Homo sapiens: one gene and its partners. The protein of the gene in region 3 purifies or fractionates together with the protein of the main gene of each other region. This does not show direct contact. Each region holds a gene or a part of one and is shown on either strand. Other genes may lie near its edges.

Region 1 (3,500 bases), on a different chromosome or scaffold from region 3:
TGCCTCTTGGTTCAAGTGATTCTCCTGCCTCAGTCTCCCGAGTAGCTAGGATTACAGGCACGTGCCACCATGCCTGGCTAATTGTTTTCGTATTCTTTTAGTAGAGATGGGGCTTGACCATGTTGGCCAGGCTGCTCTTGAAGAGGATCAAGTGATCCGCCCGTCTTGGCCTCCCAAAGTGGTGGGATTACAGGCATGAGCCACTGTGCCTGGCCCTATATAGACCTTTTTTGTCTTGGAAATTAACACTACTGAAGTTGTCATGGAATTTTTTGGTCTGACAGGTTTATACAGTGCAATGCCTCGAGACATCCTGATAGTTGTGGGCAATGAGATTATCGAGGCTCCCATGGCATGGCGTTCACGCTTCTTTGAGTACCGAGCGTACAGGTCAATTATCAAAGACTACTTCCACCGTGGCGCCAAGTGGACAACAGCTCCTAAGCCCACAATGGCTGATGAGCTTTATAACCAGGTGAGTCCCTAATTATAGGCTAGCTTATTACTAACTTTTCTAAATGATCCACAAAGAGTAAGATAGAGATTCTCTGATACCTTGTATATATTATGCATTTTAGAAACCGAAAACATCATCTTATTTTTAAAAAGTGATTATTTTATGATGAATATGATAAGAGTAAATGATCCTATGATAATAATAATAATGGCTAACACTTTTTGGTGCTTACCTTGTTCTGGGTCCTGGGTTAAACCCTTTATTTACATCCTCAATCCTGTTTGTTTTTCACAACAACCCTAATCATACTGTAGTATCATTCCATTAGATGGGGAAAAACTTGCCTACAGGTGTACCACTGTTCATTAGTGGAACCAGAAAAGTCACTAGACTGAAGTTCACTTTCTTCTTCTAGAAAAAGAACCTGATCTACAGTTCAAATTCACAGTAAAATGAAATGTATGTCCCTTATTAAATCAGTTACCATTTGATCTTTTATAGAAAAAAATTTAAAAATCAAAATAGCTTCTGGGTTTAAAGACAGAAATAAATAATGAATTAGTTTTGCCACTCCCAATCAAATTTGGCAGGGGAAACATGGCATCTCGTTTTATGGTATGAGTTAAGCTCGGGACCAAATTCCTTTTCTAAAAGAACAGAATGACTTCATCCTGTTTACTTTCCGTACGGTTCATGGAATATTCTCAGAATCAGTTACTGCCTCTGTATCACTTTTTTTTTTTTTTTGAGATGGAGTCTTGCTCTGTCACCCAGACTGGAGTGCAGTGGCGTGATCTCGGCTCACTGCAGCCTCTGCCTCCCGGGTTCCAGCAATTCTCCTGCCTCAGCCTCCTGGGTAGCTGGGATTACAGGTGCATGCCACCATGCCTGACGAATTTTTGTATTTTTAGTAGAAACGGGGTTTCACCATGTTGGCCAGGCTGGTCTCGAACTCCTGACCTCAGGTGATCCACCTGCCTTGGCCTCCCAAAGTGCTGGGATTACAGGCATGAGCCATCTCACCTGGTGTGTACCATTTTTTTCTAAGTACATAGTGCCCCTTCATCCTCAGGGGATATGTTCCAGACTCTCAGTGGATGCTGATACTGAACTCTATATATTTTGTTTTTTCCTGTACATATATACATACCTATGATAAAGTTTAATTTACAAATTAGGCACAGTAAGAGCCTAACAACAATAATGAATAATAAAATGGAACAATTATATAAATATACTTTACTAAAAGTTAGGTGAATGTGGTCTCTCTGTTTCTCTCAAAATATCTTAATGTTTTGGGACGACAGTTGACTGAAGGTAACTGAAACCATGGAAAGTGAAATCATGGGTAAAGGAGGACTGTTGTATCAGGAAATTACTATAATGCTAGTTTCTTGTTTTATTGTTGTTTTGGTTTATTTATCATGGACCCGCTTCTTTCCCAGGCATGTTTTAGTCTAGAACTGAGTAGTAATATTTTGGGAAATGATGTTAAACTAATTTTCTTAGTACTGTATGCCTTATGAATAATTTTCTCATGATCCAGTGCATTGTGTGTGTTCATTCTTGTTCCAATTAGGATTATCCCATCCACTCTGTAGAAGACAGACACAAATTGGCTGCTCAGGGAAAATTTGTGACAACTGAGTTTGAGCCATGCTTTGATGCTGCTGACTTCATTCGAGCTGGAAGAGATATTTTTGCACAGAGAAGCCAGGTGAACGCAGGCTGCCTCTGAAATTTCACACTATATTATTGTATTCTTTACTTCCAAATTAAAATATTTTCATCCTAAATTTTTTTCACCTTGAATATTTTTAGTTTTCTAGACATAGAACCAAATATTTATCGATCGTATGTCTTTCTTTTGTTTTCAGGTTACAAACTACCTAGGCATTGAATGGATGCGTAGGCATCTTGCTCCAGACTACAGAGTGCATATCATCTCCTTTAAAGATCCCAATCCCATGCATATTGATGCTACCTTCAACATCATTGGACCTGGTATTGTGCTTTCCAACCCTGACCGACCATGTCACCAGGTAAGAGATTTCTTGGGACTCTGGAAAAGCAACAGAATCTAGTAACTAAAATAATTGCCACTTTTATTTTAAGCACTTCCATGGTTCCTAATGGTTCTAAATGACAGATTCAGCAGTACTCAACATTATTATGATCAAACATTGGATTCCTTATGGCTTATTACAAGATGTCCACCATGCAGAAATATACATAGTTGACACAATAATTAGTATGGGATCATCAGACTTTGGCCACTTGCTGTTGTCAGAGCCTCAAGTTTGTGCATATGTGTGTATTTTTATCAAACGATGGTGTTATAACTTGCAACAGTGGTTCCACAGCAGCGAATTTTGGACAAGATCATCCTTGCATGGCCAGGGCAATGCCACTGGGCAGTGGTTGTATTCCCTCTACAGTGGGGTAGCCTCCCTTTGGCCAACCCTGCTCTGTAGGGAAAAGTGAAGCCACTGCACTGCAGCTGGTCTATCCCCTTCACCTGCAGCCTCCTACTTTCTGTCCATAGCCTCCTACTTCCAGTTAGGTGATGAGTGATTTTCTGTTACTTGCAAGGCTGCAGTACAACTTTTAAAAACCACTGTTATACTGTGTCACTGTTCATTTCTGTTTTTTATTTTTAAACCCGATGACCATGACTACTTATTCATTTCATTTTATTATCATTTATTCGTATAGTAAGTGGGTATGTGAACACAGGGACGGCTAAGTTGTAAAAGGTCACTAAGGACAATATGGTTCTTTGAGAATGCATAGCTAACAACTGTCTTTATACCATGGTCCTAGATACAAAATGATGGGCAAGAAGTAGAAGGACTGTGGGTTTGATGTAGTCACATTTTTGTTTTCTTGTAACTAAATAGGAAATTTTTCAATTTTTAAAATGAGAATTTCTTAAGGACAGTATCTTTGGTTTTTTAAGTCTCTGAAACCTGAGAAAAGTTAAGACTATCTTTAAAAGCTGTAACATTTCTGTTACTTTTTAACTTTAATCTGGGGATTTTAT
Region 2 (3,500 bases), on a different chromosome or scaffold from region 3:
TTGTTTTGGGGTTTATTGGAGGGTGTATTGTTTTGGGGTTTGTTGGAGGGTGTTTTATTTTGGGGTTTTTTGGAGGGTGCTTTGTTTTGGGGTTTTTTGGAGGGTGTTTTTTCTTTGGTTCAATTTTTTTCCTCCTTTTCCCTTTTCCTCTGCTTTTCCTTCCACTCACTGTTATTTCTTTAAAATATTTAACCATTCAAATACAGTAGTTGAAACTGTCTCCACCTCATTACTTACTGAGTTCCACACCTGTCACTGGGCGTTATGCCCTTCAGAATGGTACGCTGGTATGTCAGCAGTCACCATCTGTGAGCATCTTAACAGTGCACAGTTGGATGTGGTTCGGATATGGCAGGGCTACTTTCAGGCATAGGTTTTTAAATGTATCATTTGTTTGGGGGTTTTGAGAAAAATCTTTATGTCTCTTTGAGAATAGGGGCTGTGTGTATTATCTTTAAAACTAAATGCATCTTCTCAATGGAATGTTGGAGAAATGAATGGCTAGAGTAATGTCCATTCCCCATTGATGTAACTCTTGGTTTTAGTGTCACTTGTTTAAATCTATAAGCCTGTTAATGTTCTAAAATTAAATATGCTGTTCTTGTTTTTCTTTTTTAGTCAAAGATGACTCAAATCATACAATAGGAGTGGAATTTGGTTCAAAGATAATAAATGTTGGTGGTAAATATGTAAAGTTACAAATATGGGATACAGCAGGACAAGAACGATTCAGGTAGCTTTTCTCTAACTTAATAAAAATATTTGAAAATTTGATTTAAAATAATTGATGATATTCTCTCAATATATAAGGTCTCACTCCCTCCCCAACACACCCCTTCCTTGTCCTAATCTCAGAAACTTCATTTTTGGAAACTTTGATTGACAAGACAGCTAAAATTTAGGTTAGCTCTCTGCAGCATGGATTACTAAAGAATACAGGAGGATCTCCGCGCAACTGCATTATAATTCGGAGGCTGACCCATTCTCAGGAGGATGTGGCACTGTGTATTGTACAGTATGTTTCTAGATTCAAATCAAAGCACAAGCTTGTTTTTCTGTGTTCCTTTTTTAAAGAAGAACTTTTTAAAACCTTGTGAGGGTTTGTTTTGTTTTACATTAACTAGAGCATGTTCTGATGTTTGATACACACTCCACAAAATATTCTCTCCACACTTTAATTACAATAGGGTCATAACTGAGGCTCAGAATGACTTCAGTCACTGCAAATGAGGTTACATGTTTAGTATTCTGTAACTACTAAAGCAAGAAAATAGATTAATATTTTAGTTGTGGTTTTTGCACAGATGCACAAAGTCAGAACTGATATTCATAGTTTTATAATTCAGTGAAATAAAATCCACCCCATTTGTAAACATTTCACTTGAAGTTGAGTACATGTCGTATATTAAATAATTGAAGTTTGGCTGGGCACAATGGCGCATGCCTGTAATCCCAGCACTTTGGGAGGCCGAGGCAGACCTCCTCACCTGAGGTCAGGAGTTCAAGACCAGCCTGGCCAACATGGTGTAACCCCTTCTCTACTAAAAATAAAAAAATTAGCCGGGCGTGGTGGCAGGTGCCTGTAATCCCAGCTACTCTGGAGGCTGAGGCAGGAAAATCGCTTGAACCCGGGAGGTGGAGGTTGCAGTGAGCTGAGATCACGCCATTGTACTCCAGCCTGGGCAACAAGAGCAAAACTCCATCTCAAAAATTAATTAAGTAATTGAAGTTCAATAATTGCTTCAAAAATACCATAACCACCTTTAATCACCATCATTTTTCTGGAAGCATTGATTAAACATGGTGGATTCAATTAGACATTTATGTCTTCCCTCTCAGAACCCCACTGAAATGTCTGTTAAGTAACTGAAATTGAAGTAACTCAAAAAGGCCAAGATTGAGTGAGTGCACAATTATGATTGAGAGATTTCCAAAAAAATCTTAAAGATAGGAAGTAGATGGTGCTCTGACAGCAGAAGGAGCTCCACCTTAAGTACTGTAATGGGGGAAGCCATTTCTTCCTCTGGAGTCCCAGAAAAGGTCAGGATTTGGAAGCATCAGGTTCTACAGGAGGTAGAGGTTACAGAGGTTCATGTTTACACACGAAATAAGAGGTTCAGTCTTTTACGTTGAAATGGAGTCTAGACTCAAGGTCATAAGGCCCACCTGAGGGCATGGGGTCAGGCCTGAAAAGAGGGAAATTAAGTGAAAATGAAAGCCTCTGGCCCCCAACCCACCTCCCCTACCTCTTCCCTGGTCGCTGGCAGCCAGGTGTGTATGTCCCACATAGGAGAAAGGAGCCTTCTCTGCAGAAAAATGAATAGTCAGAAAGGAAAGGCTTGAAGGTAGTGACATTTTGCTTTCCCAGTCAAACAGCCCAGTCTCTATCCAGTCATCTGAAAGTGAAACCCTCCAAGCCCACCTGCTCCACCCACACATAAAGAGCTTCTTTTAGACTTTTTCATTCCTTGCTCTTAATGATCAGGCAGAATTTTGAAGAAAGTTTCTATAGCAAAAGAGAGAGCTCAAAGTAAAGAAGCTGGAACTTTGAGGGAGTAAGAAAAACACACTAAAACCACAGTATCCTTAGGAAGAAGAGCAGAGATTGCATTGGAGTATGTAATAGAAACAAAGTCATACTTAAAAAGAGCAATCAGAATAATATGTTAAATAAACTCATGGTGAAAAATGGGAGAGATGACATAAAGAATCCTCCAGAATTAATCCAGAAGATGCAATGACTATTAGGAGTTCCAGAAGAGAGAAGAGCAGAGAGAATAATAGAAGAAAATGTTTCACTGAAGGAATGAGATTCCAGATTAATTGGCCCACCTAAAATCAAACATAGTAAGGAAAAAGTCCAGACCAGAGCGTGCCATGTGAAATTTCAGAACACCACAGATGAAGTAAGGAAGACCAGAAAGGTTCCAAGAGGGAAAAAGCAGCCACATATAAAGTGTGAAAAATGGAATTGCTTTGCACCCTTCCACAGCAACATTGGAAGCTAAAAGAAATGGAAGCATTGCCTTCAAAACTCAGGGTGAAATAATTCTTCAACCTAAAATTCTAAACTTAGCCAAACTGTAAGTGTGCAAGTAAAGGCTGAATACCAACAGATGTGCAAGAAAGAGGAGGAAGCCAAGATTATCTTTCTCAGAGACTTCTTAGAAATGTACTTTCTTAGAAAGTTTAGGAGGATATACTTCACCAGGACAAGGGCATGATCCCAGAAAGAGGAAAATGAAGCCAGCAGGAAGATCCAGCTCAGAATGGCACAGGTCTAGAGGGACAGTGAGGGAAGACTAAGACAGCAGTCAGTATGTGATGGCACTGCCCTTCCAGGAGGACCAGGGGAACAAGTGAGGGGCTCTGTAAGAGCTCACGACTCTGTCAGAGCGGGGAAGAAACAGCTCTGAAATTCAGTTTCCTAAACCTTTTGTAGAAATGAGAAGAAAGAAACTGTAAGATCCATGAGTGTAAGGGTTTTTGAGTTTTCTGTT
Region 3 (3,500 bases):
GGATTCCAGCCAACAAAATAGAGACTCCATTGGAAAGAAAGTATTCATATGCTGACTCTTATGGACAAGGGGCACTATTTGATTTTTCTGGTGGCTGTGTGCCTAACCAAAGATCAAGGTTTCTGTTATTAGAAAAAAAAGAATAAATATTTGGGATAGGCGTCTAGGAGTTTCTAGTATAGCTGTATTAAGTTTGAATGGTAAGAGGTATAGCCCATTGTGATGAACATAGGCTGGTGGATATATAGTTTTGAAGTGTAGGCAAGTGAGCTGAGCTGCAGTTATAGATTTGGTAGTCATCAGTATATAGATATGAATTAAACGCATGGACATTGGTAACTAAAAGTATTTGTTCTTTTGGGTAAAATAATGCATTTCTTATAATTTTTATGGTATTAATTTGCACAGAAATCCTACTTTATTCTAATATGAACCTGAGCTTATTTCACTATGTTATTATTAAATGCCAATATATTAGAACGTAATTGTCAAGGTGAGTATATAATAAAAAATTTCATAAATTTTATGTACCATCCAAAAATTAAAACTGAATTCTTACATATATTTCAGGTCGATAACTGGGGCAGAAAATTCTTTAATCAGGAAAACTCACTTTTCATTTTGGAAGAATTATTTAAACATCGAGAGGGTCTATACATTTTTCAATTTCTCCTCATTGCTGAATTAATTCAGATAGAATTTTGTTACATGTAGAAATTTCTAGACTGTCTAAAGAATTCTTGGTGTATGGTTTAGAGTGCTTTCTAAGGAAACAGCAAGCCAGAGGACACAACAAGGTGTCAGCATGTGGCCCAACTGTCACATTCAGGCACATTTTAATCAGGGTCTAGAGATTTTAAAAAGTTGGTGTATAGTAGTTATACATATTTTGGGGGTATCTGTGATATTTTGATGCTTGTATGCAATGTGTAATGATCAAATCAAGGTAACTGGGATGTCTATGACCATCTTGTGTTGGAAATATTACAGTTCTCTTCTAGCTATTTTGAAATGCAAAACAAGATATTGTTAACTAAAATTTCCCTACTGTACTGAATGGTAGAACTTATTCCTTCTATCTATACATTTGTACCCCTTAACCAACTTCTCAATACAAGTAGTAAAGTATGATTTTCAAAGTCTGGCTTTCTCAGGTATGGTATTTAGATTGTTTCAAATAACTTGTAGTCTCTTAGTTTGACTGCAAATTATTTCAAATTATCTGACATTGTAGTCAACAGAAAAATGAGGCATTTGAAAAATTGCCTGAAGTCTGATTGTTTAACAAATGCTGAATTTTAATTAGGATATGTAACTTTTTGTGTTATGTGAGGCATGGAACATTAGCTTGGATGAAAATTGAAGACCATTTAGATCAATTTAAATTTCCGCTGATTTTTTAACATGTGAAGAAAAGGAGAGCTCTCAATATCATACAAGTTGGGGCTCAGGGGATGCTGGAACTCGTTTGATGTGGAGTATGCTCTCAGATTTCTCATCTGTTTGAACTAACACTAAGACATAGGTTACTGGTTTTACAGTTTAGATCTACTTCCATTCTATCATGCAAACTTTCTTGGAGTCATCTAGACAATGTCAAGAAGAAGATTTGGTAGGAAGACAGCTAAAATTTTAAAAAGTTTCTGAAAGTCTCAAGCTATATATTAGCAGCCACAAGAGTGTCTCTAGCTCAGGTTTCTCAATCATTTTTCTTCTGATACACTTGCAGTGATATCAGCACACTGCTTGTTAATTCTTATTTTTCTTCCACATTTTGAAGTGTGTAAAATTCCCTATGATTGGCTGCAATGGCATCGCTCGTTAACTTTGCTGTGGGATATTGTTGTGTATAAAGTTGCTCAGGTAATGCCAGTTTATTATCTTGAACTAAAAAGAGTTTGAGGAAAAGAAAGCAAATATATTAGTAGAATTCAAACTTCAGTAGCTTAGTTTAAGTCTATAAACCCATAACTAATTACTTAATAATATCTTTAATTTTTTTGCAACCCACCTATCTGTATGTAGTTGCAAATTTCTAGAGATCAGGCCAAGTGTCAACTTAAATATCAGTTTGTAGTCACCTGTGCTGTACCATATTTAGTTGGGAACTTAATAAAACCTTGATGATAATCACAGTGGAGGTCAGAGACATTCCTTACTGTTGAGTTGCCACTAATATTTATGTAGTACACCTATCTAACAAAGTCTATTGATATCATATGCAATCTTCACAACCTCCTTTTAAAGGTAAGGGAAAGATACTGTCACGTAAGTTTTATGGTTGGCTAAACAGAAATAGTTAAACTCTGGGTTTTGTAACTTCTCTATGAGAACTAGCCGTAATTATTATGGTAGGGAATGCAAACATTGTGATTCAGCCCAAGCGCCTGGCTGATGCTATCAGATACTTATAGATGTGTTTTATCTTCCAGTGGATAGGACAGAAATATGTTATTTGTAATTTTATGTGGAGTAATTTGCTTGTATTTCTTCTTTTTTTAAAAAAACAGCAATGAAAATATATAATCCATGCACGTATATATGATATTCTGTTTTATTTCTACTGTGGATATTTTTATAGTCCTGTTCTAGAAAGTGTGAGAAGGATTAATTATGTCACCAATGCTTGCTGGTTTGGGCTTTTCACAAAGTAAAACACATCTCAAATACTTTTGTTGATAGGATAAGCAGGCACAATCCTATGAGCTAAGCTACGGTCAAATACATATCATATGCCAAAACAAATATATAGACCAATGGAACAGAACAGAGGCCTCAGAAATAATGCCACACATCTGCAACCATCTGATCTTTGACAAACCTGACAAAAACAAGCAATGAGGAAAGGATTCCCTATTTAATCAATGGTGTTGAGAAAATTGGCTAGTCATATGCAGAAAACTGAAAGTGGACCTCTTCCTTACACCTTAAACAAAAATTAACTCAAGATGGATTAAACTTAAATGTAAGACCTAAAACCATAAAAACTCTAGAAGAAAACCTAGGCAATACCATTCAGGACATAGGCATGGGCAAAGACTTCATGACTAAAACACCAAAAGCAATGGCAACAGAAGCCAAAATTGACAAATGGGATCTAATTAAACTAAAGAGCCTCTGCACAACAAAAGAAACTATCATCAGAGTGAACAGGCAACCTAGAGAATGGGAGAAAATTTTTGCAATCTATTTATCTGACAAAGGGCTAATATGCAGAATCTACAAAGAACTTAAATTTACAAGAAGAAAACAACCCCATAAAAAAGTAGGCAAAGGATATGAACAGACACTTCTCAAAAGAAGACATTTATGCAGCCAACAAACATATGAAAAAAAGCTCATCATCACTGTTCATCAGAGAAATGCAAATCAAAACCACAATGAGTACCATCTCATGCCAGTTAGAATGGCGATCATTAAAAAGTCAGGAAACAACAGATGTTGGAGAGGATGTGGAGAAATAGGGACATTTTTACACTGTTGGTGGGAGTGTAAATTAG

What was found. Proteins that work in one complex are often made in the same cells at the same time.
Region 1: the proteins of TMPRSS11E (region 3) and GATM purify together in Homo sapiens (affinity purification with mass spectrometry; one large-scale study listed by BioGRID and IntAct). This does not show direct contact.
Region 2: the proteins of TMPRSS11E (region 3) and RAB4A purify together in Homo sapiens (affinity purification with mass spectrometry; one large-scale study listed by BioGRID and IntAct). This does not show direct contact.

What each region holds. Positions count from the first base shown.
Region 1 is NC_000015.10:45,365,045-45,368,544, reverse strand, and holds part of GATM (glycine amidinotransferase, mitochondrial isoform 1 precursor), read left to right. Parts: intron 1-284; coding exon 285-475; intron 476-2,036; coding exon 2,037-2,174; intron 2,175-2,334; coding exon 2,335-2,499; intron 2,500-3,500. UniProt on the Homo sapiens protein: Transamidinase that catalyzes the transfer of the amidino group of L-arginine onto the amino moiety of acceptor metabolites such as glycine, beta-alanine, gamma-aminobutyric acid (GABA) and taurine yielding the corresponding guanidine derivatives.
Region 2 is NC_000001.11:229,288,111-229,291,610, forward strand, and holds part of RAB4A (ras-related protein Rab-4A), read left to right. Parts: intron 1-618; coding exon 619-733; intron 734-3,500. UniProt on the Homo sapiens protein: The small GTPases Rab are key regulators of intracellular membrane trafficking, from the formation of transport vesicles to their fusion with membranes.
Region 3 is NC_000004.12:68,453,963-68,457,462, forward strand, and holds part of TMPRSS11E (transmembrane protease serine 11E precursor), read left to right. Parts: intron 1-3,500.